Regions from separate parts of the Homo sapiens genome. Here regions 2, 3, 4 and 5 are each linked to region 1. The links come from fine-mapping of genetic effects on gene expression. A gene starts in region 1. Each other region holds a variant in brackets. All regions are shown on one strand. Distances are between the middles of the regions.

Region 1 (6,070 bases):
ATAAATAAAGGCCATACAGACAAGTTTATAAGTAACTATATAGTCTATTTTTTCAGCTCATGTGGCTTAATGTACATGAAATGGTCGTTAATTGCCACTCTTTTAAGCAAGTAACTCCATACAAGTATTGGCAGAATCATGGCAAGTAATCACATTAGGGCATTAGGGTGTACGTAAAGGAGGCATGGGAAAATGCAGTAAATGATATGAATACTTTGAAAATTAATTAAAACCTAGGTTTTGATAAAAAGCTGTGATATAATTTATATTCTGCTTTCTAAAGTAAAAACTAACTTGATAATTCCTTCCATTGATAACTAACTTTCTAGTCTTCCAGGGCTTCATTAAAATGCTTCATTCTCTTGCCTTCACTTGCAAACCCTGTGCCCTGCAAGAGGGAGAGCTGGAGGAGCTCATATGAAACATACAATATCTTTTGCATTGTGTATGCCTTGACGTGAGAGAATTCCAAAACCCAACACAAACATTATCTCAACTGGCTATATTCTACTTGAGCATAAAAATCAATTTTTTTTCAGCCTGCTCATTCACCATCTCTTTATTCAATAAAACATGTATTTTGCAAATCACAAAATGCAAACACAATAAAAGCTGAACTAGAATTGTTCCTATTTTAATGATCATGTGAACAATCTTTCAGAGTAGATGCCTTTTTACAATACTCCCCTGAACGACCAATATGTTGATTGAACATATCAATTTAGGTTGATATGTTCAATCAACATATCAACCTAAAAATTATATGACAGTCATGGAAAAATGTAAAGAAATGGCCAAAACTTTTAACAGTACAAAATTTGGGTTAGTTTGAGTAGGTTTGCATTTACAATTCAAAGTCCTTCAAAAATCACGTTAGGTGAAACTGACATTACCAAAAGATAAACGCATACCACCATCATCACTGTCTATAATCAAAATATGTATTCCTATAACTTATTGTTCCACTTCTGTTTCCCAGAACCAACTTTATTCTGTGAGGATTTCCTGCGCTTAGTATATTTAAACTCAAGAAATCGCTAAAGAAAAAACATTCAATAAATGGGAAACAAAATGCTTTTTACACTGACTATACAGCATCATGGATAGGAAGAGACTCACTGATATCATTATTTTTAAAAAGCAGATAAAACATCAAATAGCAGTGTGTACACTGCAGAGTTCTGTTATGCAACTAAGAACAGGTCCCAAGTCAAGATGAAAGTTAAAAGTAAATGCACATTACACTTTGCAAGCCAGTATCAGATACATTAAACTTTCTCCCAATCATAAAAATCTATCCACTTCTCTGGAAAAAGTAATATGATTATCTAGTACCTACCTGCATATAAAAGCTGAAGAGGCAAGCAGTGACAATACCCAGCAGTTCTGCAAGGCAGGGAGCCTCCTCCACTGGCCTTTCCAACTTAAACCTTAACTCTGAACCAACATTTCTTCCCAAACTTTAGCCGCAGGCACGCGCGCGCACACACACACACACACACACACACCCCCACACATTACTCTTATTTTCTTTATACTGGTCAAAAACACTTGCTTCCTAAAGTTTAATCAACTTTTGCACCTAAGAAAACTCTTATCTGCTTTCTTCTAAACGGTTTTTCAAGAACAGTGTAATCTGTCAAAAAGTTGTATAGCTAGTGAGTTGCTTTTTCTTCCTTTTTCAATGTTAAAAGATACTTGTGGCCTTCTGTGCAGAAGTCACCAAATTCCTAGTAATTCAAACTGTGACAATCTAATATTCTAATAACCTGCTTAAGAAATGAACCTGTCTGCCCACTCCAACCCTTCCTAGCTAATATCTAACCATCTTTAAGGTTGCCAAAACGTAACAGAACTAATGAAGCATTAAAATATAACTCCACATCAAGCCTTGACCAATAAGCTCTGTGAATATCCCTCCTGATTACTAAAACTTGAGCCTCATCACACCAAAATGACAATCTTATGTTGCATTCAAAACCCGGAACTGCTTTATCCATTGGTACTTCGCACTGGCTGACAAAGAGGAAAAGAAGAGAAAAAAGAAAAAAAACCTAAAATCATGAAGCCCCCAAATAAAGAGCAGACTCACACTCGGACACCAACAGCGCTGCAGCTCAAGGGATTAACGGTGGAAGTGAGACCTTTCCGATATTAATAGCGCCCCGGGAAACAGAAGAATTCCCCCAAACCCAGTTGACACACATTCTGCATTCAACACGTAACAGCCATTCTGCATATATCCTTGCATTTCAGGCTCCAATTCTGGTTATCAAAGTGTATTTCTGTACAGGAGTGCCTGGCCAGAGGTTTTCTGTTCTCTTTGTCTTGTGATCTGAGGGGCAGTTTCTGAGCTTAGGTTAGAGCTGTGGTTTCCAGAGAATTGCCCACGATATTTTAGCTCCGGGTTGCAGGCTCCCTGGCTCTCCCCAGCCGGCTCCATATTGCTGGGCAGGTCCCTCCCGCCTCGCCCCACGTTCCAAAAGCTGGATTTCCGGGCGGTTCCAAGACCCCACTAAATATGCCTCCAACAACCTGCCCAAGCTTGGCTGGCAATAAACGCTGAGTTAGGGCCCCAGCGACCAACCGCCCCGAGGCGCACTTCCCCCACCCCGGAAGAGGAGGGCGGCAAACTTCGGAAGGCGGGGGTTAGGGGACGAGCTCCGGGGACCACCGCCGCCTCGCCCGCCCCGGGAAGGGCCCGGGCAGCGACCCTGGCTGCAGCTGGAGGGCCACGGGGGAAGGGAGCGCTCCTTCCCGCAACACGAAGGCAGCGGCCAGGGCGCTCTCCTCCGGTGAGGGGCCCCGGAAAACTGCAGCAAGGCGACAGCGGGGACCCTCCGAAGTGTGCGGTGACGGAGGGTGGGAGGAAGCCCGAGCTCGTCGGCAACTCCGGGGGCAAATGCGACCGGCGGCGTGCAGGACCAGCTCGCAGGAGGACGGGGGAAACGGGAGTCAGGATGGCGGGGATCTCACAGGACGCCGGCCGCGCGCGGGGGTAGTGCTGCCCGGCGGCCAGGAGATGCCGGAGGCGGGGAGGGCCGGTGGCCAGCCCGCTTCCCCCCGGCGGGGCTCTGCAGAAGGAGAAGCCGCTGCCAGTGACAGGAAGAGAGTCGCGGCAGCCGTGCACACATGCACCGCCTCCCCCGCCCGAGCACACACACCCGGGGCTGCTGCTGCCTACCTACCCCGCCCGCCGGCTTCCTTCCTCTGCGGGGCCCGCGCTGCAGCGGTGGCCTCCTGCCCGCTCGGTTCCGACCGGCCTCCAGCCCGGCTGCGACCCGCCGGCCGTGCCCGATCCGTGCTTGCCGTCTCCGACAGCTAGCCTGCCGCCCTCGCCGCTGCCGCTGCTTCCTCCAACTCCGCTCCAGCTGCTGGCGACTCCTCTCCGTGCGCCCGCAGCTCCAGCGCCCGGCGCTAGCCCCGCCTCCGGCCCGGCCCCGCGCGCCCCGCCCCCGAGCCCACACCAACCAGAGCCCGCGGCTCCGCCCCTTTCCGTCCGCACGGCTCGGGCCTCCGAGCCGGCGGCTGGCAGTGGGGGAGCGAGCTCAGGCCTGGCGGACCCTTCCTGCCACCGCCCTCGCCTTCCGCCCCCCAGCCGCGGGGATGCCCCGGGCGGCCGTGCCGCGCGCTGCCTCCGCTGCGGAGTGCTCTGGCTCTACACGTCCCGGGCCCGCCCGGCTGCTGGGCGTCTCCCAGCGCAGAGGCGGAGGGGTTCGGGGAGGTCGAAGACAAGTTCAGACCTCCCTGGAGGCTGGCTGCGTCTCTAATCCGAGTGTCTTTCAGCCAACCCCAGGCTTTTTCGAGCCCCTAGCGCCCCAGCAGAGTGGCTGGGGTGGGGAGGACTCGGATTCCAGAGCTCGCCAAAGCGGAGAGGCCCTGCAATTCCTGGTCTCGCCAGCACTGCCTTCCGAGTGGGCGGAAAACCCGCGGCACCCGCCTGGCGCTCCGGGGGTGAAGGAGGGGTGAAAGGGTGAACCGGAGGGACGGGCGCCCGCAGCCTGCCGCTGGCTAACTCCGGCAGCCTGGCACCGCCGCCTCCGGGAGCCAGGCGGACCCGCGAGAAGGGAAGAGAGTTTTCTGAGGGCGTACGCTGGCTGATGGCTTCTAGTCCTGAGATGACAGAGCAAATGGAGGTCACTCAGGCAGACCACGGGCCCCTCGGCGTTCGCGGAGTCGGGGGCGGGGTTGGCGGGGGGTGGGGTTGGCGCGGGCGGGGGGGGCGGGGAAGCGCAGGTGAATTACATTGTCTCTTAAAGGTGTTAGTTTTGAAATGCATATTCTTCAAGTAATAATTACCTAAGTTGCTCCAGAAAAATTTGATGTTGGTTCAAACCTTCCACTGATGGTAAGATGGAATGCCAGCACCACGTGTGCCACTCTTTCATATTAAAACATGTGAGAATCTGCTTCCTAAAAGCTCTTTCCAGATTCTCCTTTCTGCAGCTTAAAGCCCTGCACCCGCCCACCCTGTTTGCCTAAAGCCCTTTTATAGTTCCCTCCCAGTTTCCTTGCAAGAAAACTCTTAAAAACAAACACACAAAACCTAAGCACTTGGCCTCTGTAAAACGTTGAATTTGGTGGTTTATTCTTGTGGACGTTGGAAGTAGAGGGAAGAACGTCCTAAAATTCATCGCTTATCCTTAAAAAATATCATTTTTAAAGGTGACTCACCTAACAGAAAAGTAAGCTCCACTTTAGGCTATTCAGACACTGGTGTTTCTATTATTCCAAGATGTCTCTTGCAGAGGCGACACAAAAACAGGCAGCTACCCACATCATGTTTAAGAATACACTTTATCTGAAAGCAAATAGGAAATTTACCAAGGTACCTTCTTCACACCTACTGTGTGAAATGAAGGACTTCATGCATTCTCTGTCTGTAAATGGAATGATATACCTTGCCTTGCAGTAGAATTACTTTGATCCAATCCAATAAGCTGAGATGAAACTGCTGTGACCTTCCCAGTATTTCCTTTAGGTTCCGCTCTGAACAAACTCTAACAGTGAAAACCTTGCTAGTTATCTCCTTCTTCTGGAGATAGCTGGAAAGAGTCTTATGCACTATTGCAGTGGGATTCTGTTCACCCGCAAACCTAAAAACAATAAAATTCCCAAATGCACCTCCTCATTTAGACACAGTCTTTAGTAATTTATTTCCAGCATACATTGTATTTCCTTTACGTTTTTTCATCATAAAGAGTGTCCCAAGGGAAGAAAATAAGGCTCTCTTTTCATATACTAAATAAATTCAGTATTTCATTTGTTTTAAACTGATGATATCTCCCCATATCACTAGTATTAGCATTTTTATTTATTTTCACCTTCAATTGATTTCTATGAAACAAAAGCAAAGGCAACAAAACAGCAGTATTCAAGCTTTTTTAAAAATAATCTTTTTATTTAATAAAATCTAGTCTAGAATCCCCAAATACAACTATAAGATAAGAAGTCATGTAACAAGACCAAGAGGCCCATTGCACCACCTCCCTTCCTTCTGTCTAGAACCTCTGGATCCTTGGACTAGAAACATCTGGATCTCCTGAGAATTTGTTGGAAATTCAAATTGTCCTCACTGAATCAGGAATGCTGAGGGTGGAGCCTAGCAATCTGTATTTTAATAAGCTCTCCAAGTGATCTGATGCATGCCCTATGGTTTCAGAACTATTACTCTAAGGCTTCTGGAAACACTGATTGAAAACCTCTGCAATAAAATACTCACATTAAGTACCCAAACACCATGGTTCAATCAGTAATGGCCAAACTGTTGGCCAGCAGGTAGTGACACCAGCAAGGAGCTCGAAATAGCAGAAGATGTACAATTTGCAACGAAAGGGGTGATACAGGGGTGTCACATACAAGGCATAAGAAGTCAAGGACCCCCCAATGTCAAGAAAGGCTGAGTAGCTATAGGCTGAGAAAGAATTCTCCCCAAAGTATGGTAGGATACTCTCATTTGGCATCATCATTCCAGCTACATCAATATTGTGAGTGCTAGAATTAGCTTTCATTAGACTTGAAACCTAAGAATGTATCTTAGGGTTCAAAGCCAATGTGAAATACAAATGGC
Region 2 (6,070 bases), 22 kb after region 1:
AATGCTTTGTAGGTGGTTCTGACATGTAGCCGAAGTTGAAAATAACTGCTCTAGGCATACAGGCCAGAATCCTGATCACAGGCTTACACAATCTTGCCCCCGCTTACTTCTCTTCGCTCGTCACATATCACACCCCCATCCTCTGTTCTCCAGCCATGCTGGTCTTCTTTCGGTTCCTCAAAATCACCACACTCCTTCCTGCTGCTGACTGGGCTTCTGAGCATGTTCTTTCTGTGGAGAACATCCCTGCTTCTTCCGATCTCAGCTCTGCACCACTTCCTTAGGGAAGCCTTCCTTGATCTCTCTGACTAGGTAAATTCCAGGTCCTGGGGTCATCAAACTCTGCACCTTTTCCTTGTGGCATTTGTCACAGTATAGTTTTATATTTATATGTAACTCTTTGAATAATGTTTGTCTTCCCCACTAGAGTATAAACTCCGTGAGGGCAGGGACCATGTTGCCTTTACTCTCCACTGTTATCTCTGCTCTCTATTCTACATTGGGAATGAAGGAGACTCTCTATGTGTTGAGTGATCAAGTGAGCAGTTCGTGATGGGGAGGGTAATGATTACTGAGGGTATTACCGAGGGTAGCCCAGCTGGTTGAGGAATTAAAATTCAGCACCGGCCAGGCGTGGTAGCTCATGCCTGTAATCACAGCACTTTGGGAGGCCAAGGCGGGTGTATCACCTGAGGTCAGGAGTTCGGGACCAGCCTGGTAAACATGGAGAAACCCCCCTCTCTCCTAAAAATACAAAAATTACCTGGGCATGGTGGCCTGCGCCTGTAATCCCAGCTACTCGGGAGGCTGAGGCAGGAGAATCACTTGAACCTGGCGGGGGCGGAGGCTGCAGTGAGCCGAGATCATGCCACTTTACTCCAGCCTGGGCGAAAGAGTGAAACTCGGTTAAAAAAAAAAAAAAAACAACTAATCAGCACCAAGATGTTTATTACAAAACCAATAAAAATATTAAAGGGAAACCCAAGTCTTGAGCGGAATGGACAGTACGAAACTCTAAGGGACATGTGGTTGATGGTTAGGGGAGAGGGTGGAAAAAGGCTCTGGAGAGCGGAAGATCTGGAGGGGAGGCCTCTGACCCAACTGGATCTGGTCTTCCATTTATCCCCTGTAGTATTCTACCTGAGACGCAAGGGGTATGGTCTGAAAGCAGAAAAGAACCTTTGCCCAGTATTCCCATAGGACTTGGCAGTGCAAGGCAGCACCTCTATGGGATCACTGGGCCAGGCTGTGTGTTTGTTTGGGTGACAGAGAGAGGACTCACCCAGCAAAGAAACACCTAGTTTGGTAGTTAGTCTTGGAACCACACTCCCTACTTTCAAATCAAAGTGACCTTAGGACAAGTTACTTATGTTCTCTGTGTTTCTGTTTTCAAATTCTAGCATGGGGATAATAACAGTAACTACCTCACTGCATGTCTAAAGATTATATGGATATAGTCTCTTTGGCATAGCAGTTAAAAATTTAATGAATTCTATCTAAAACAAGCACAAAGATCCTTCTTCAACCATTGTTTTTACAGTTTTATTTCTACTCTAAGAACTCTGCCATGTTTTCCACTTTTGCTTCTGTGTTGGTAGAGCTGCAGTTGGAGCCCGGGTAATTGCATGCTATTAACCTCAACAGCACACAGCCTCCACCATGCAAGCCAAACTTGCTAGCATCCATGAGTAAAAGCTACTGGTTTCTGAATAAGACCAAAGTGAAGCACATTTATGATTCCTGAATTTCATATAAATCATAATTGTGCAGATGATTTGCCTTCGAGCTGCAAACACCAAAATGTGATTGATGTCTGAGAATGTCTGTGAAGCTTTGCTGTAACTCCAAGCCCTATTAATACCTCCGATGACAAGTCTATTAATTCATGAAGTGAAGATGGAGAGCTCGCACCAGCATTCCTTCCTAGGATGGTCACAGAATCAGTAATGTTACATAGAACATCCTCCCTTTGGTTTCATGTTATGAGTGTACATTGTATTCCATACAGGGACAGGGATAAGGGATAATGGGGCAGGGATAAGGGGGGCATCCCATTTATTTGCATGCCCCAAAATGAAATGCTCTGAGCAAAGAGTAAATCCTAAGGAGAACTGGGTACACCGTACATATTTGGTAAAACAGGGTTAACCAGAAAATCATTTCTATTACAAACACACAAATTCTATGAAATTTCAATTTGACTAGTGCTCAACGGAAAAGGAGTGTGATAGTTAGCTTTATATGTTGACTTAACTGACCATGGGATGCCCAGGTATTTGGCCAAAGATTATTCTGGGTATTTCTATGAGGGTTCTTTTGGACAAGATTAACATTTGAATCAGTTGACTCAGTAAAGTAGATTGCCCTCCTTAACGTGGATGGGACTCATCCAGTCAGTTGAAGGCTGAATACAGCAAAAAGGCTGGTGCTACCATGTGTAAGAGGGAATTTCCTTCTGGCTGACTACCTAGAGTTAGAACATTAGTTTTTTCCCCCACTGCATTCAGGTTCTAACAGAAACATTGGCTCTTTCTGGGTCTTCAGCCTGCCAGCATTTAGACTAGACACACCATCAGCTCTTCTGGTTCTCAGGCTTTGGACTCAGACTGGAACTATACTATCAGGTATCCTGGATCTCCAGCTTGCTCACTGCAGCTCTTGTAATGTGCCAGCTTTCATAATCACACGAGTCAATTCCTTAAAATAACTCTCTTGCCCCCTACACTCACACCACACACCACACACACACACACACACACACACACACA[CAT/T]CCTATTGGTTCTGTTTCTCTGGAGAACACTGACCAATACAAGGAGCTTAGAAGGTTTTTCTGCCTTAGTAAATACAGGAGGTCAAATGTTATCGAACTTTTTTTTTTGGTAATGAAGACTCAGAGTATTTTGGAGAAATACTAAACATTGTGAACCTGAGTCATTCCCCATACAATGGTGTTAGGAAAAGAAGCGGAATTAACATGTACTGAGTGCTCACTATAAGCCAGACATTCACACAAACATCAATTCAATGAATTGACTTAAAGAAATGTTGACTGACCTAAGAAATTAGTTCCATATACTAGCTCTATTATTCACCTTTCCTAATAAATATGAAATTTTCCAAATTGAAAAAGTCTTGAATATGGTCCTGATACAAGCTAAGGAAAGAGCCTTCTTTAGTTAAGGGAAGCTTGGCAAACTTCAAAGGAGAAGGTGTGATTTCTTTTCTTTTGTTAATCAACTGGGTGATCACTTTAAAAATACTATACTTCCTGACAAAACTGCATCATTGTGATGCAAAATAGATGACTTGGCATTTTGCATTCCTGACCCCAAAGGGCTGGAACGACGTCTTACATCAAAGTATGATGGGTTGCCCCCTGGAAATACAATGGATCACTGTTGCAGGTTTAGGCAGGCTCAGGGACATCTCCATTTCCTCACAGGCTTTTTGTAAATCACAGGAAGCCTTCTAGACTCAGCACTGCCCCAGACATAGAAACTACAAGATCTTATTGCAAGGCATGAAGAAAGGGTCAGGAAGTTAGTTTTTTTGACCTATATCTGAAGAGAGCAACTTGGAGTCCCACAGCCTCCTGGTGAGATCTTTCTGGGTCTTTTCTTTATCTGCCTGATGGAATAAATAGAAAGGTCAGGGAGGAAAAGAATTCTTGCTGAGATCAACAGGTTGGCAGAAGTATCACTTCCTCACCCTCATGTATAAAAATGACCTAACGCCCACAATGTCCCTGCAATTTTTGATAAAGTCATAACCCCAAACAGTAACCGAGAAAACAATATTTTGTTATGGACAAGAAACAATGCCTGGAATTGCTTTTGATAGCAAAAACCGCAAATACTTTGCACCAACATAATACAACTAGAGACCATACCTTTATCACTTGGTTAGGTCACTTAACTTCTCTGGGCTTCAGCTATGAAACTGGGGTGGGGTGAGGAGGGCTGGGAGGTACAAGGTAAAGGGTGGGACTACAGGATTTCTGAGACTCCTTTACCTTGGGAAAAAAACCAAGGTTTTCTATTATCTATATATATAGTTGTATTATCAGCATGATAAGCCATCTAACTTATCAAAAGAAAAATTTGGCAGCCACAAAATCCCTCCTTCATGTGGATGGCAGGAGTTCATGGCTTGTCAGCCTTTGGTTCAGTTTAACAAATATTTGGCTGCATTTGCTGTAACACATACCCTGTGCTAGGTTCTGGAAGCACAAAATGAACTCAAAAACTACTGGGGTCTTTAGCTAAAGAGAATACATGCTGAGCTGTTTGCGAAGAAAAACACAAAAGCACATGTATGGCAGTTTAAAAATGTATCTGCAAGTTATTTGATACTCCTCCCATCTAGAGAGGTCCAATCTTAGTGACTCAATAGGAAACAGTTGAACCTTGTAGTGATGCTGTGTGATGTCTGAGGCTGGCTGGAAAAAGCCCTTGTCTGATTCTCTTGAGCCTTTCTGGAGAAAGTCTTCCGCCATGTAAAAAGTCTGATTACCCTGAGACAGCCATGCTGGTGTAGATACGCTTATTAGCCTCTGCCAAGCTCACTGCAGACATGTCAACTGCTGGACCTATGGCAGAGCTGGGCCTCAACTGCTGGACCTATGACAGTTGATCCTTATGTCACTGGAGCCAGAGTCAACATCTGACTGCAACTGCATGAGAGAACCCAACAGAGAGCTGCCTGGACTGAGTACTTCCTGAATTCCCAGAAAACCGTGAACAAAATGAAATGAAGGTTTTAAGCTACTGGTTTGGGGGAGTAATTTATTATGTAGTAATTGTTAACCAGTATGGTATCTTCAGTGATATTATTCTTAAGATAACTCATTCAGGCCCTGCGCGGTGACTCATGCCTGTAATACCAGCACTTTGGGAGGTCAAAGAGGGCGGATCACTTGAGGTCAGGAATTCAAGACCAGCCTGGCCGACACGGTGAAACCCCATCTCTACTAAAAATACAAAAATTAGCCAGGTGTGGTGACAGGCGTCTTGTAATCCCAGCTACTTAGGAGGCTGAGGCAGGAGAATCGCTTAAACCTGGGAGACAGAGGTTGCAGTGAGCTTAGATCACGCCACTGCACTCCAGCCTGGGCAACAGAGTGAGACCCTGTCTCAAAAAAAAAAAAAAAAAGAAAGAAAAAAAGATAAGTCATCCAGAATCAAAGTTAATACAGAAACATTTATATTTAATTATTTTCCCCAATGGTTATAGACTATGCTCAAGAAGAGAAAGATAACAATGGTGTAATTGACCTAAGAACCTCGTAAACTGGATCATGCAATGTTTTAAATGACTTTTTTTTTAAGTATAACCTTGAAAAGCAGCTTAAGTTTCTTCAAACTAGAAATATATTCATGGAACATAAGTATTCTGAAAAAACAATATTCAATTTAAGAAAAATAAAACAAAGATGACCCTTTAAATTACAGCTACAGTTGTCTTATTTCACATTATCAGTGCTTTTCAGAACAACTGAATTTTTTGTTTTTGTTTGAAAAAAAAAAGTTATCCTGAGACTTTATTTACTCTAACCACAGTGAAACACATTCTGGTCTGGTGATCAGAGGAAAAATACAGGAAGATAAGCATAGACTCCTGCCTCCCACCCCTCCAGCCAGATTGTGTGGCACATGCTCCTCCCATGTTAAATTCATAGAGATTTTCAATACTATAAGAATTCAAGTACTCTGTTCAATTAAAGGGTGGAGCATGATCCATTTCCCAAGAATAGTAGCTTCATGACTCTATGGACAGAGCGCTTGTCTAAAGATGCAGGCTCTAGTCACTGCAGAAAATGCACTCTAACAGGTGACAATTTGAGGGCCTACCTGAGAAAGCAGCTAAAATTGCCTCTTTATTTTGGTTTCTCTGTTTGCTAAGTTGTAATTACAGCCCTGACCAACCTTAAGAGTCACTGTGACCCCCTCAGGGCTGAGTTTGCACAAAGTCTCCCTCCCATAGTACAAGGGGAGCTGCTTAGGGGGCAGGAGGCAGGGAGAGGTCCATTCCCCATGGTAGGGCTTGGGGGATGTAGTTGCCCCCTCCCTCT
Region 3 (5,000 bases), 64 kb before region 1:
TCCTTTGAAACAGGCGCACCAATTGCTCAGCAGAGAAATGTAGGGTCCTTTGACATATCAAACAGCTTTCCGGGTGGCATTATGAAAATAGTGCAGATACCCGTTTTTACTTTGGTGGAATTAGGATGAAACTAACAAAGGCGTTTAACTAGTTTACACCAGTCAGGCTAATCAAACTCTACCACTGATTCTGCTATACCTTGTGTAGTAGAAATTCTCCAAAATTCCATGTGATAAATTCATTTGTGGGTATCTGTCAAACCCTGTCTGGCTTTGGCTTCCATGTGTCTCCTCTCTCTAGAGGAGTGGCCACTGAAAAGATCAGGACTACCCACTAGCCCTTCACTGAGAGCAGGGTCCAGCTCTACCTAGTCTCTAACATAAACCTCAACTTAAGTGCCATGTGCCACACCCCTACCCCAATTCTTTTCCACTAAGTCCAAAGGCAGCCTCTGAACACCAGCACAGAGCTCCCAAATCCATTCACAGTGACCTGTGTACTCACACGAGATGAAGCCTTTTGGCCAACCCCTGGACTGAAGTCCTAGTCCCTACCTGTTGACAGTCTTCTTTGACGTAGTTTACCTAGAATTCTGGGCACCCCTGTTAAAACATTCTGCTTGCTGTGATTTGGAACATCCCATGCTTGCCTTATCTACTATACCGGATACCTCTCTCTCACCTTTGGTACATTTTGGGCCTGTCCACATAAACCTTTCCCAATACCCGCATCTTCAGTGTTTACCTACCCTATCCTCTATCCTACCTGCTGCAGGTGGGTTTTGAGTCTAGGCCCTGGCCTCTCTTAGGCTGCCCCATCCAGATGCAAGTAACCAAGCCTGGCTGTGCAATACCCAATTAAGAAAAAGCACAACTTAACTCTCCATTGCATGAAGATGAAACTGAGTCCCCATGCCTGCTCATACAGAGATAAATATGGTAATCTGCATATATTACCTATAATAAATATATTCATGGAGTTTCATTTTAAGTTCCAGGCATAAATTAAGACTACAAGCAACACCTTTTACTGGTCCTGAAACTTCACACGTATAGTACCCTAATTACTATTCTAAATGACCAGTGTCGATTAGCTAACTTTTAACTGGTATATAGCAAAATGAGGTTGTTTAGACTTTCCACGGTAGAAGAAAAATACATCAGTTTAAATTAAATGCATTGCTAACATGGTCTACATTTCCTGCTTTGTTAAATGGCTAACTGAACAGCAGCCTGCTTTCAAAGAAGTGTCTGGCTTGCTCGAACTTGCTGCAGGGAACACTGGTTTCATACTGCTTGCATTATTGAAAATGTTTATTTTGACAGGCATTTCTCAGCATACCCACTTCCAAAAAACACATTCTAAAATACTTTAAATTATATAGTAATTATAAATCCCCTACTTTGTAAGTATTAGAAAGAAAAACAAAAATGTCAACAACTAAAATGAACTCCATAAATCTCTTCAACAACCTGAAGCATAAATGTTGAAGGGTACAGGGAACTCTCCAAACTCTCACCTAAAACCAAGATAATTTAAAATCCACAAATGTTGAAACTCGGATAATAATTAACATATACACTACCACTCAGCTATTTTTTCTTTAAATCACAAGGTAACATATTACTACCAACTGTAATTCCATAAGAAGCTGTGTTACTTCAAAGGAGGTTTATAGCCATCATTTTTTAAGGCTCTAAAAAATGAACAATGAGAGAATGTTAAATGCTCAAAAAGCATTACCTGGTGCAGGCTGTCGTTCATTCCATTCAGTTGAGATTAAAATTTCTATAACTTTTATGAGGTTTTCAGTATTATCAGAGCTGTAAGAAAGAGAGTTTATTAGAAACCTTTTCCCTAAAAGCAAACTCATTTTCATTTATATACACTCAAGTGAATGTGTGTGATAGCATCTGCACATGCATCTCTGGAGTAGTATATTCAGAATACATTTTCATGACCAATCCATTTAGGACTACCCTCATCACCCCAAAATACATGTTTGTCTCCTTTCACTTACCTGGCTGCTGAGAATCTGAAAAGCATAGGGCTGAAAATTTCAGAGAGTACTCTTGCATTCAACAGATTTTTGCTGGAGGTTTGAGAGAGCTTGAAGAAATGTTTTAACAAATACTGAAGCGTAAGCCAATACTGATGAGGTATGCTAGGCGACCTAATAAGCTTCTTCAATAGCTGAATATATTCTTCGGAGCTTTGTACTTCTACAAGTTTAAAAAAAAAAAAAAAGAGAAATGAGTAAGCGACTACTTCCAGGTATCAGTGAATAAACACCTAGAAAAGTTCTGCTCTTTCTTCAAGCTATAGGAGTCATTTAAAAAGTTGTTGGGAGAAGCACACAGTACATTTGTCCTTCTCATTAGAAAACGCATTATGAGAAAGTAGAAATCTCAGGTCAAATGGAAATGCAAAAAGCTCAGTGTGTAAAGAAACCACAAGCTGTTCAGGGTGTGCTGGCAGCAACTTACCCAGTATTGAGCAGCTTCAAGTGTGATT[G/A]GCTAACTCAGAGGAGCATCAGATAAGTATCACAGGTTTTAACTTTGAAGGTTACGAACCAGTTTCCTGTCCCCAAAGCACTTAACTGAACCTTATCTCCTAAAACTGAGAGCCATCTTCCCTCAACACATTCTGTTATGGCCACTCAGGAAAGATGACAAGAACATCCCCCATCACTGGATTCTAGTCCCAGTTCCTTGAATCTGACACTAGTACTTGGAAGACCGTGTCCTTCATTGACGTACAAACTTTGTTAAGACCAATAGGTTAACAATGAGCCATTTCTGATTCTGACATGCAGACGGGCTTCCCAAGCAAATGAGAATCTGGGTCTTCTCTTGGATGCTTGGGTGGAGGAGGAAATTTGAGGTGGTATTGTTGGGGGAGGGACAGGTTATTACTACTATTTTCTAACCACTATTTCTATATATGCAAGACATATACAAGCACCTCTACATCTCCATGTATGTTCAATGAGGTTCCCAGAAGAGAAAAAACAAACCTGGAGCTAAAGAAATCATTTCACTGTAAACGGCTGCTGGAATGACAGGATTTGGTAAGTCCAGGAGATAGCGTTTGAAAGCGTCAGCCAAAACGTGCACATCGATCATTTCCAAGTCCACGGAGGGTGTATCTAGGAAACAATTTAAGAAATATTTCAGACATTTATTTTATAGAATACATCAGTTGGGCTAATTTTCTGAACAATTTGACTCACATGTGACAAAAAAAAAAAAAAATAAGGAAGCAATATGAGGATAAATACAAGACACAAAGTATTCGTTAGCCGTACTTCTTGTAGGGGTTGCTCCGGGCATTTGGGGTAGAACAATTTTTCCTGTGGAGGTCTCTCTGACATATTGCAAGCACTTAGGATGCCTGACCCCCTGCCCATGATGCCAGTAGCAGACCTCCACACTTTGGGGCAACAAAAAATAATGCCTTTGTTATGGGCTGAATTGGGCTGCATCTTCAGTGGTTACCTACCCCATCCTCTGTCCCACCCCTCTAAGCCCAAACTCCTAATGCCTCAGAAAGTGACTGCATGTAAGTTAAAATGAGGCCATTAGAGTGGACTCTAATCCAATGTAACTGATATCCTTCTAGGAGGGGAAATGAGGACACAGAGAGAGACACACTAGGGATGCACAGGCACAGAGGAGAAACGCTGTGAGGATGCAGTGAGCAGGTGACCATCTACAAGCCAAGGACAGAAGCCTCAGGGGAAACCAAACATGCTTTTTTCTCGGACTTCTAGCCTCCAGAACCACGAGAAGTAAGTTTCTGCTTTTTGAGATGGAGTCTCACTCTGTAGCCAAGGCTGGAGTGCATCTCTGGTGTGATCTCGGCTCACTGCAACCTTCACCTCCCGGGTTCAAGCGATTCTCCTGCCTCAGCCTCCTGAGTAGGTGGGATTACAGGTGTGTACCACCACGCCTGGCTAATTTTTGTATTTTTAGTAGAGACAGGGTTTCATCATGTTGGTCAGGCTGGTCTCAAACTCCTGACCTCGTGATCCACCCGCCTCAGCCTCCCAAAGTGCTGGGATTACAGGTGTGAGCCACTGTGCCTGGCCAAGTTTCTGCGTTTTAAGCCACGCAGTCTGTGGTAACTTGTTATAACTGCCTGAGCAAACGAATACAGAACCCAAACATTTCCTAACATCCTCTGAGGGTGGTTCTGCCCTGACTGAAAAGGGTTCTAACTAGGAATGGTTAGTCATATAGTAAATGTTTCCTAAAACCTCAACAGGAAAAATTTAAAAATGCATATTCCCAGATTTCCTAAGACTTGAGTTGATATGTCTCAGAATTCATGTAAATGTCACCAACAGAGTGATGGATTCAACAGTAAGATACTACAGACTTTTAGCAACCAATCTCAAGAATATCCATGAAAATAATTTGAACATTTTTAGAATGTTTCTCCCTAATTCTGTCTGAGTATTACTAATCTAACCTGTGGATATCAGACAATCTCAGAAAATAAGATGAGCATACCTGTCCAGTAAATCCCTCAGCTGGGAAACAGGTCAAGCAATCCAATAATGGGGGTAAAACTAATCAATACCACCCTCCAGGCACTCACTACGCATGGCACTCTAAGTACTTGGGTTGGAAAAAGACACAATGCCCAGCAGAAGAAAGGGATGCTAGAAACAAAGATCTGGGGGCAGGGGTGACCATGGGCCTCTAGAAAAGGAGAGGACTTTGGCTGCTGCTGAAGGATGTACACTAGCAATGCGAAGGATAACTTGAGGAAAGTAATCTGGGGACTTGTGTACTCAGTGGAGCAAAGGTGGGCTGATGGGCAAGATACTACGTTTGTAACAGCTTTACTAATGACAGTGTTAAGAATAAATTGGAAGGGAGTGCTGCTAGAAGTAAAACTACCAGATTTAGTTCTCTGAATCAAGGTGATGGGGGTCTGAATTCTAATGCAGTTAGAAATGTACAAAATATTATCGAGACCTCATATAACTCGG
Region 4 (6,070 bases), 85 kb before region 1:
GGGAATCTTCATTCAGCTCACTTAATCACAGCATATGCTCTAGAAGGAGTCCCAGAGGCCCATACCTTTATCTCACAGATAAGGAGTTGGAGGCCTGGAAGGTGCCTTGAATTGGCCCACTTCCCACAGCTGGTTAAAGACAGATAAAAAGAGCAGACTGGGCCTCCTAAACTGCAAATCAATCTGTTTTCTTTTTCCTATGGCCTACATTATGAAAATAAATTAGAAAGTAACATATCACTCATTAATGGTAATGGTTTTTAGTTAAAATGCTAGAAGTACTATTTCAGTAAGCAGGTGATCTAAAGTCGTGATCTTCAAACTTTAGTATACATTAAAATCACTCAGCTTGTTGAAACAGATTGCTGGGCTCCAGTGTCAGAGTTAGTAGGTCAGGGGTAGGGCCTGTGAATTTGTACTTCTAACAGGTTTCCAAGTGATGCTGATGTGAATGCTGTTAGTCTGGGAACCACACTTTGGGAACCACTGGTTTAAAGCAAGCCCAGGCTATTTCCTGTGATTCATCATTGACCACCTGTGCACTGTCTACTAATTGAAAGCCACATGGTTACCTCCCCAGCAAAAAGTTACCAGTGAGCCTTTTTTTTTTTTTTTTTTTGCATTCTCTTGTGCATTTTCCATTGAAAGTCTATTACATTACAGCATAGGGGCAAAGAGCTCTGGCTTGAGAAGCCTATGCGTTCAACTCTGTTCTCAGATGCTGCATGATCTTGAGCAAGTCATCTCACATCTATGCTTGTTTTCTCATCTAAAGAATGGGAATATAATCATCTTACCCAGGTAATTGTGGAAAGAGTAAAACAAAGAGTTTAACAGATAATAATCACTTGATATGTCAGAGACCAGTGTGTGTATGTGGGGGGGGAATTACCCTAGCTCTTACTGGAATAATTGAATGATAATTACTTGAGTGAGGGAAGGGTTCAGAAACCAAATGGGGGTGGTGAGGGAAACCAGACGTTTAGCAACAGCATAAAGCTGCAACCACTTCTTGGGCTGGAGTAAAAAATGGGAGTAGGTAATGTTTCCAGAGCCTTCTCCTGAGAGCTAGAGCAGAGGGGGTTTGCTCAGACCTGAAAATGAGGGTCTATCTGGCAGGAGCTAGAGCCAGGGAAGAGACACCTAGAAGCCCCAGGACAAGCGCTCCAGCGAATATAGTTCTCTGTGATACCAAACAGAGCAGGGGGAAAGCAGAACATCAGTCTGGGAGCTACTGCCATACTCAAAAAATATTAGTCATTGTTGCCCTGAGAGTAATTATTTGTACGTCCCTCTCCCCTCTACTACTAGACTATGTCTTTCAGGTCTAGACCCTCACTGTGTCTACATGTAAACACCATATACATGCAAAGTGGTATTGCCTTAAGTCCACTTAGCAATCAAAACAAATGGGAAAGTTATCCTACAGTAAGACTTGTGTATCTTGACTAGGTGATACAATGTAAAATCTGCATTTGAGGTGTAACTTAGCTCCCTGTCTACAGTCCCATGTCATCCCTGCACTGTGAGTGTTCAAAATATGCAGACTGCACAACAGAGACAAAACTGGACACTTCGTTCTTAGAGGATGATTCTCAAGGTTTGGGTATGAATGCGGAGGAGGCGAGAATTGAAGGATGATGGGCATTCTAGTTTTCCTATAGCGAGAACGTGCCTTGAAGGGACATTACCTAGGTGTATTTCCTCATTTAAGATGGTGAAATTGGCCGGGCGCGGTGGCTCACGCCTGTAATCCCAGCACTTTGAGAGGCCGAGGCGAGTGGATCACGAGGTCAGGAGATCGAGACCATCCTGGCTAACACGGTGAAACCCCGTCTCTACTAAAAATACAAAAAATTAGCCGGACATGGTGGCGGGCGCCTGTAGACCCAGCTGCTCGGGAGGCTGAGGCAGGAGAATGGCGTAAACCCAGGAGGTGGAGCTTGCAGTGAGCCGAGATAGCGCCACTGCACTCCAGCCTGGGCAACAGAGTGAGACTCCGACTCCGTCTCAAAAAACAGTGAAATTATGAAAGACAGCTCATATGTATTACTTACATGTGACCACTCAATGTCCTTCTCAACTTTACAAAAATGAGATACTGTGATAACAATCAAAAGGGAGTGGGTGGGAGACAACAGAAATAGCAGCAACATTTATAAGCCAAAAGGTAGCTGTTTTAGAAAGATTTCTTAGGTGATAAGTGAAATTTCAACCCAAAACTTCAGTTTCAAAACAACCTTTATTCTGTTTGAAGATCTAATACAATGCATTAAAGCAACTTAAAACAAGACATAGCTCCATTGAATCTATAACTTGAACGAAATGTCAAGGAGGCACACTACCCCCACCCCCCACCCCAGTTGCCTTGTGAAGGCAAAGTTACAACTGACCGTGACATCCTCCCTCTCGTCAAAAGACCAACTTTATTTTAACAATGTCATATAAACAGATTTTTAAAAACATTGAACAGATTGTAGCTTTAAAAAATACACAGGTATAAATGAGTTTTTTTTTGTTTTGATTTTTTTAAATACATATATATATGTGCATATATATACATATATGTATATACATATATATATACACATATATATATATATACACACACATATATATATATATATATATATATATATATATATATATATACACACACACACACACACACACACACATATATATATATATATATATATATAGCAGCATCCTGGGCAGCTAATGCTATCTCATGGTGACAAGTTTCATGTTAAGTTGGATAGTCTTTCCAATTGACTCAATTCTATTTCCTCCCCACCCATAATACCAGTATTTTATAGAACTAGCTTTTTAAAAAATAAGAATTTGGCATTTTGGAACTTTGTCC[C/T]ATGTGAGACATTGTGCTTTAAACTGCCCCTTTCTAAAAATGACCCTAAACTCAAACAGATCTCAGTGTCTGCGTTTCAACTAACTTGGATACCATACATAGCAAAAGCACAGTTGTTAAAACCAGCAGATTTTTTCTTCCAAAGGAACATCAGTAGGACTTCCCAAACATGTTACTAGTTCATAACCAGCTATATGACAAAGCAATTGGTTCCCCACAGTGACAGCTCACATAAACACATTTTGACTCGACACACTGAAAACAAGGATTTCCAAGCTAAGCAAGTCATCAGACCAGCTCCCTAAAAGGAGTAACTTTTAAAAACACAAAAAAGCCAAAGAAATATGAACTTCTCACTTCACTTACAAACAATTTTCACCTTTGTAAGACAAAACAAAGCAACCTCAAAGGGAAAAATCCCATACACATAAGTAAGAATTGTACTAGACGTTCGCTTGTTATGTACTTTATGTACTTGAACTCAACAACTACTGTGGATCTGTTTTGGCTGAAAGGTGTACTGGAAACACAGTCCATGCACATATACATATATACATTTATCAAAGGCCATGAAGTTATCAGATGTTGCAAACACATGCTTTTTGCCTTTTCACATGGTTATGATCTCTCGTGTGTGTAATGTGAGGTCCCAATGCTCCCACTTCTACGCCCAATCACAGCCTCACTGCAGCTTAGCTTCTGGCTTTATCTTTAGGATGCTACACTGGGTGGGAAAAACTGACGCATGGATAAAAATCATATATCAGGAGTGCCTCTGCTGTATCTATTCATATTCAGCCGTTCAGACAATATTGTTAGGACTGTCTGATGAAATCCAAAGTGGCCGGCTAGCAAAGTATCTAAAACGACAAATGCGGTGGGCAAGCTACACTGTAATCAAAAAGGCATTGGGCAGAACAGGTCTGGTGTAACTCAAGTCATATGGAATGATGAATCCTACTTTGCTGTTCAATGAAAAGATCTATTGCACTTATGTTTGTGAGATGCAAAAATAAGGCAAATGCCTAAATACCGTATCATCTTGCAAAGAATGTTGAAGCACAAAGATTCACAAAACTGTAGCTTTTAATGAAAATATTCAATCTCAGATCTTATATTTTAGAAATAAAAATTTGTATGTAATAGCATACATGTGCTACCAAAAAAATACCCACAAACCTAGTTTAAAAACTGTTAACTAATTAACTGTTAGACTTGTGTATGATCTAGAAGGATATCACAATAACTTTAAAGCAGAGACGCAGACTAAAACCAGGGAAATCGTCAGTTGTCTGGCGATGAGAGGGAAATGGTCAGATCAGTAGAGTCAAGTTTGAGGGCTAACAGTCTTGCTATAAGACTGACTTTTGCTTAAGTATGAGTAGTTTCATGTAAAGAGGACAAATAATACATTCCACAGATTTTTCACTCAGCTGCAAGACTGATTCTTTCAAAAGGAACAACATTAAAAAACAAAGTAACAGAAAACCCTCACCCTAGTACTTAAACAGAAATATAGCTGTGGGTAAATCTAATATGGAGAAAGAGTAATTTGAAATTGCAAGATTTCATTTAGTCTATTAGGGTAGTGACCATATTATGGTTGCTAATTAGTCTTTATGCCTCCCAACACATGTACAGTTCCTACTGAACATACCAGCTTTTGCATATCTAAATCAGGAAGAGAGACCTCTCACTCCTGCCCTAAATGGGAAACATGATGCTAACGTTTCCTTCTCCCCCCCGTAGTGAAGCACATACAATGATTAGAATGAATGAGAAGGACTGCCACTTGGATTCCTGCAATGACCATGACTTTAGCGAGCTCCACACAGTCCAGAGCAGTGACAGTATGACTGTGTCTATTTGCTTTATGTTCTAAACCAAATGGAAAGCTAGGAGGGTAACCAACATACCACCAAAAGTATTTTTCAGATCATGCTTTTTTTTTTCCTAAAATGAGTATTTGCTGGTCATGATGGATAGTCTAATGTGACAGAGATGATTATCCCTTTAAACCAGTGTTCTAAACAAAGGTGAGCGCTGTTCCAGGAACCCAAAAACAAACTTGGCACTTCCTTCCTAAGAACTGAAATACCTGACCAGTCACACTGTATTAGAGATACAGTAGGTTTGTAATTGTCATTAATTGATAACAACTAGCAAATCAAAGTGAGAGAAGACTGAAGTAGAAGAAGCAACTTCACTTTGCAGTTATTCACTTCTCTGTAAATCATGAGAAAGTGCATATAACCTTGCCTCCCCCTCCCACCACCCCACTTGATACATCCCTTCACTACATTCCCCCTCCCTAGATTCAAGAAGTTCACAATTCTTTATGAAATAAACATTGCCAGGTACCGTATTTTAAGAGTCTTAAAACAACATTGTTGGACTCAGCAATACTTTGTCATATTCATATATCTTTTTCATTTCTTTTTTTTATTGAATAAAGCAGCTTTGAAGCTTATCAGGCACTGCCCAACAAAACAGTCCAAAAAAAATCTGTTATGAACTTTTTAACCTTGGGCTAACAGCCAAGTACTCTGTACAAGAAAAACTGTAAAATATTTCATAGTTTTAATTCTGAAGCCATTTTTTTTTTTTACTGGCATCCTGTACATTTACTTTTAAAAAAGGATAACAAAAATGAATATTAACAAAAATCCGGGACAACAATATTTTCAAGCAACAAAAACTGGGGTGGGGAAGCTTATTCTGAAGGTACATTTAAAACTGAAATAACAACTTAATGAAAATTAAGAATTGCATAGCGCTGTGAATTTAGCCTTCAGCAAAACAAAACAGAAGCTATTTGGTATTGATACAAATCCATCTATTTGATAGTTAGTCATCCAATATTATGTACATATTTTATATACTGAATGTCATTTTAAGTCCTGTTTTCCAAACTCCATTTTTCTGTTGCTGGGTTTTTGTTTTTTGACAAGTTAAACACTTTCTGGCACTTTCTATGACAGAATTTCTTCTGAACATACATGAACTGACATTCTCCCAAAGCGTCCCTTGTGAGTGGACGTGCCTTTCTGCTACATATCGTTCATTTGTTACAAAATGAAATAATCCACAGTGCGATGTGTCTGGGTCCACCGTGCACAGCAACATCCAGGCTAAACCAGGCTGGACCAAACCTTCTCAGGCCAGGGTTCTTCTGCCTCTCTCTCCTCCGCTCTCCAGAGTCCC
Region 5 (5,000 bases), 40 kb before region 1:
GTCCTAAAACCTGACTCTAAGTGCATAGACTGAAGCTTCAACCCAGCTCCTAATTGACTCTTCTAAGAAAAAATGTGTTCACAGCTCAAATATCTGCTTCCAGTTTGGATCCCCAAGGGAAAACTATGTCTTCTAAAAAGTCAGGGTGCTATTGTTTTCTCTAAGCATAAAATGTGTTTTGGGTGTCAGAAACTGGAAGTGGCAAGCAGTTCCCAAACTCAGATTATACGATAACATTATAAATAGCTAAAAGGTACTGAATCAAAAATTATTATTCAGGAGAGGCAACAAGAAGATAACAGGGAATTATAGGCAAGGGAGTTTCCTTTGGAAATGTTAGTTCCTGGGGAACAGAGGCTATCTACAGTGGATGTCTGAAAAAGGCAATGAGGAGAGGACAGGGAATTAATATTATAGACATGGAATCTTCTTTGGAAATGACAGTTCCTGGATTTTAAAAGTGCTATATATAGTAAATGTTTGAAAATGTTAAACTACTCTGCAAAAATTGTCTAACAAAGGAAGGAAAACATAACTTTCCAGCATAGGAGTAAAAGTATTAGCAGAACATAATAAATTCAAAGTGTAGTACAGCCCATCTCTCCCCACCCCAACTGGCTGTCACAAATACATTACTCCCCTGTGGGGCCTGCCTTTGCACAGCCAGCCAGCCAAAGGGGTAAAAAGAACAACATTAAACCGTAATTACCGGGGCCTGCCTTTGCACAGCCAGCCAGCCAAAGGGGTAAAAAGAACAGCATTAAACTGTAATTACCAGCCCTTTGTTCATGGGTTACTCCTCCATGGTTATGTCTGCATTTTCATGTGATTTTTGGTAGACAAGACAGGGTGAAATGTGTGGGTCGGGGGAACTTCATGGCTCTTCCTCTGGATGGAGCAGCTATCAGCCACCTGTTCAGATTGCCTTGCGTTATGTACACTTTTACTTGCTCCTATAATTTAAAATGCTGAAGGGAAAAAAGCAGTAAGATTTTAGGGTAATCTGGGCTTGGCTGGGCCAGGCAGCTCTTGCTTCTGTGGTGCTCCCACCTCAGACTGGACCATGAAAGGTCCTGGGTTCCTGGTGGCACATATCACAGTGATGGCTGAGGAGGCCCCATAAAGCACGTCTTCCCTCTCCCTGGAGTGGCCACACCCTGAGACACATGCTCTGTACCACAGGACAAGTACTAATGTACTGCATCCCCGCCACTTGCCAGGTAACCAAGTTAGCTAAAACTGGCCAGGTGAATGTACTAACCTTCTTCAATAGGGCTAGGGCTAGGCCAAACTGAAAAATAGGAGGCTTGTCTTGAGCACTTGTTTTTTCTTTCCCAAACTTTTTTTTTTTTAACCCAGCTTGGCATTATTTTTTGTTCTCCATTATCTCACACTCTTGCTAATTGCCCCTCTCAATCCATGAGACTACATAGTGAATTTTGCACAACTGAGACTAGATGGTCATTCTGGATACCCATGTATGCATACTGTTGGTGCTTCAACAACAATCAACTTCATAAGGTAACAGAAAAGAAGTACAGCAATAATACCTTGAATTTATGTAGCCCTTTAAAAAATTACAAAATGTTGCTGGGTGCGGTGGCTCACACCTGTAATCCCAGCACTTTGGGAGGCCGAGGCGGGCGGATCACAAGGTCAGGAGATCGAGACCCTCCTGGTGAACACGGTGAAACCCTGTCTCTACTAAAAATACAAAAAGATTAGCTGGGCGTGGTGGCGGGCACCTGTAGTCCCAGCTACTCGGAAGGCTGAGGCAGGAGAATGGTGTGAACCTGAGAGGTGGAGCTTGCAGTGAGCCGAGACTGCGCCATTGCACTCCACCCTGTGCGACAGAGCGAGACTCCGTCTCAACAAAAATAAATAAATAAAAAATTACAAAATGTTTTTATACTTTTTTTTTGATATTCAAAGAGAAAAACAGAGTGGGGTGGTCAGAATGGAGAAAGACTCAGATTAATAACCACGTTCAGGCTGTTTTCATTAAAGAACAGAAAAACATCTAGTTTAAGGAATCAAGGTTGCTTTGAACTATGCACTATTTTGAATAAA[C/G]AGATACTTGATGTTAAAGATTTTTGTGAACACGCCCCTATGAATTCAGCATCCCACTCCTTTCAACCAGGTGCTTCAGTAGAAAGAATAAAACCACACCACAAAGGCAGTCAGTTACCAAGCCTGCAAGGCCCATGGCTCTGTGGTTTTTGAAGATATTATCAGCATTTTAATGTGAAACGTCTTGCAGACCCAAAGCCCCAAATAATCACCACTTTTTGGGAATTTGTAATTTTCCAAATGACAACAAGAACATTTATGACTCTGTATATTATAATCTGTCGACTACAAGAGCTATTAATGACAAGAGAATTCCAGTGCTATAGGGAGCAGCTTTTTCACATTGATAGCCGTATGTTTCACTTTCGCCATCTGATTTCCTTCCAAGTTAGAAAAAACAGTGGAGACAATTAAATACTGAGACTGAGAAGTAAAATGAAGCTAGAGCTCAGAAAAGCAAACTTAAGTGTTTTCCTCAACTCCCATTATCTTCACAAAATCACTAACTCATTTCCCCCCCAAGCACTATTTTTGGGGGCAGGGCTTCAAATTAATGCATAGTCTATGAAGGTCATGAAGAAGCAGCTAACAAGTGACATTTGTTTTACCCCACTGCTGAAGCACAGGATGAGGCTGAATCGGAGGCTGACCCAGATAATGATGGTATTGGGATATAGCTTAGTGGAGAATGAATACCTCCAAAGTCTCCCAAACCTGAATCACCATTTGTTCCTTTACAACACTAACTTCCCTTTATCGGTAAGAGTGGGTTATTTCTTATATCCATGGCACGGAAAAATCTTTATCTGACAAAAATTTTGAGAGGACCAAAAAGTGAGTACTTTGCAAATCAGGGACTGAAACAATTCTCCTTTGGTCATTTTAGAAAATCAGATGCTGCTAAATTTCATCACCTACTTAGAAATCTCAGAAGCTCTAATAAAGCCCTGGAGCAACCCAAAGACAAATGTTCCAGGCCATTCCAGATTCATTTCCCTTGAAGGATCTCTCACCAGTAAGTGCAGCCTCTGAGCAGCAGCTCGTCCATTTGCAGAAAAAAAATTGTGGCCTGACTTGTGTCAACTAGGGACAAAGGCAGGAGAAGAATTTGGAGGTTACTCAGTGGAAAATTTAGGAATAAGAATCTGGAACCTTAAGAAACCTTGATTTAATTTAAGATACTGCTTTGTTTGCATCATAAAAAAAAAAAAGAAAAAAAGAAAAAGACTGTACTGATGCAATCTACTCCCCTGTATTATATAAAATTTTAAGACCTAAAAGAAACACGATTATGGGTATGAACCATAACTAAGCATTTCCAAGAGTGTCTTCCCTTAAATCACATTAAAATTGTAAAAGTAAGTTACAACTGGTGACAGGCCACTTATTAGTCCATTCAGGCCAGCTCCAAGATAACAATGACTTTAATATCAAACCAATATTCCATAACCCTCTCTTTAGAATTCTTGACATGAGGTCACTGTTTATTGAAGGCTTCACTAAAATAAAGTCTTTGTAAAGATACCCTTGGGGTTAGAGGCCTAAGATGAAAATACCTTAATATGATTTCTCCTTTATAGAGAGATTCCAATGTCCCAGCCATGGATCATTCATTCCTTTGGGGGTTTTATTTTTTATTTGTTGGAAGAGTAGATGATCCCTCTGGTCCTTTTCAAATCTAAAATCCCATGATTCGAAACTCTTTTCAGTAAACTTCCAATTTTCCATACTAATTGATGAAGAGAGAGAACAAGAGAAGGGGCTTGACCATACAAAACAATGAAACATCTCAACAGTTTATATGTAAGTTAAGGATGCAGAATCATTCTTTTCTTGGGAATAAGTCTCTCCTGGTTTATCTTTGTATTTGGCAACTGCCAGAGAACAGGGAGTTCACAGAGCAATCCTGAGAAGTTTGCTCCAACACTGACTGGTCAACTGATTTATACAACATTCGAGTGTGCAGACTCACATTTACTTGCTGCATTTATGACCAAAGGGCAAACATTTAAAAATCACTCAAGATTCTGGAAAGGTTATAAAATACAAAAAAAAAAAAAAAAAGGGGGTCCACGGGAAAATAAAAAACATGACATTTATTAGCTCTTTTCTTGGAGTGGATATACATGGGTTTATAGTTCATTGTTTTCAGTCATCCTATGACTAAATAAGCTTTCCACCTGCTTAGTCAAGTGCTGAGAGAATATGACTACACCAAAGGATGTATGAAGCATGCATTTAATTTATCATAAAGAACTGTAATAAGGCAAATGTGCGCAGCTGGAACTAACTTGTACCAGATTTCGCCAATCCCCAAGCTCATAGTAGATACTTGCTAACACCTCCAGAAGTTCCGGCTGTTTTTAATTAATAGCTCATGTTGGGGGCATCTTGCCTGACTTACTAGAATGTCATTTTATTTAAAATAGGGTTCTGAACCTTAAAAAAAAATAGATCCCTTTATTTTTAAGTCAAGTAAATGATCCAAATAGAAATTTAAGTTTGGCTCTTTTAAAGGCAGCAATATTTCACATTGAATGTGCTCCCGAGGCCAGAGGAAATGTTCTTTCCTTTCCTAAAATTTCTAGCCAAGTACTCACAAACCCAGTTTCTTCCCAAGAATATTTGTTTTTTTATTTCTCAGAGCCTAGTTTTAAAAGGCTGGAACCTTTCACAAGTCAGAATAATTCCATTTGCTAGCTGGCTCTTTCTCCAAGTCCAGCTTGAATCCTATGGGACACATAAATCCTTGTCTGAAATGTAGGATAAGTGTCATGAAACATGCTAGGAAATTGGTAAACCACAGCTCAAAGCATAAATACAAAGATATAAGCGAAATCTACTCTAAAGTAAAACTATGACAAGCAGAAATACCACAATGCATTAATTCTTTAGCTAAGGTAACAAAAATATTCAAGGAAAAAGTATGT

Which allele goes with the higher level. Positions count from the first base shown, and alleles are read on the strand shown. Sizes are in standard deviations (SD) of each study's normalised expression. Not every link is listed here.
For the expression in monocytes after LPS of the gene that starts at base 3,382 in region 1, allele C in region 4 goes with a higher level than allele T (large effect, 1.1 SD a copy in Fairfax 2014).

What was found.
Region 2: its variant is fine-mapped to the expression of PIK3R1 in whole blood (INTERVAL, PIP above 0.99).
Region 3: its variant is fine-mapped to the expression of PIK3R1 in whole blood (TOPMed, PIP 0.99).
Region 4: its variant is fine-mapped to the expression of PIK3R1 in monocytes after LPS (Fairfax 2014, PIP 0.95).
Region 5: its variant is fine-mapped to the expression of PIK3R1 in whole blood (INTERVAL, PIP above 0.99).

Annotation. Positions count from the first base shown.
Region 1 is chr5:68,213,068-68,219,137 of GRCh38, reverse strand. It overlaps PIK3R1 (phosphoinositide-3-kinase regulatory subunit 1), which reads right to left and starts at 3,382. Exons shown (of 16, transcript NM_181523.3): 1 at 3,189-3,382. RefSeq lists silencers at 2,666-3,765, 3,986-4,205.
Region 2 is chr5:68,191,183-68,197,252 of GRCh38, reverse strand. LINC02219 (long intergenic non-protein coding RNA 2219) reads right to left here. Exons shown (of 3, transcript NR_105003.1): 2 at 764-883. Among named protein-coding and RNA genes, the nearest start is that of LINC02219, 4.3 kb to the right of the region's middle. RefSeq lists an enhancer at 3,155-3,694. The variant CAT/T (reference allele first, on the strand shown) is at 2,769.
Region 3 is chr5:68,277,751-68,282,750 of GRCh38, reverse strand. PIK3R1 (phosphoinositide-3-kinase regulatory subunit 1) reads right to left here. Exons shown (of 16, transcript NM_181523.3): 5 at 3,018-3,149; 6 at 2,022-2,223; 7 at 1,745-1,824. Among named protein-coding and RNA genes, the nearest start is that of PIK3R1, 64 kb to the right of the region's middle. The variant G/A (reference allele first, on the strand shown) is at 2,516.
Region 4 is chr5:68,297,975-68,304,044 of GRCh38, reverse strand. It overlaps PIK3R1 (phosphoinositide-3-kinase regulatory subunit 1), which reads right to left. Exons shown (of 16, transcript NM_181523.3): 16 at 2,224-6,070. Among named protein-coding and RNA genes, the nearest start is that of PIK3R1, 85 kb to the right of the region's middle. The variant C/T (reference allele first, on the strand shown) is at 2,867.
Region 5 is chr5:68,253,118-68,258,117 of GRCh38, reverse strand. All of the region lies in intron 2 of PIK3R1 (phosphoinositide-3-kinase regulatory subunit 1), which reads right to left. Among named protein-coding and RNA genes, the nearest start is that of PIK3R1, 40 kb to the right of the region's middle. The variant C/G (reference allele first, on the strand shown) is at 2,071.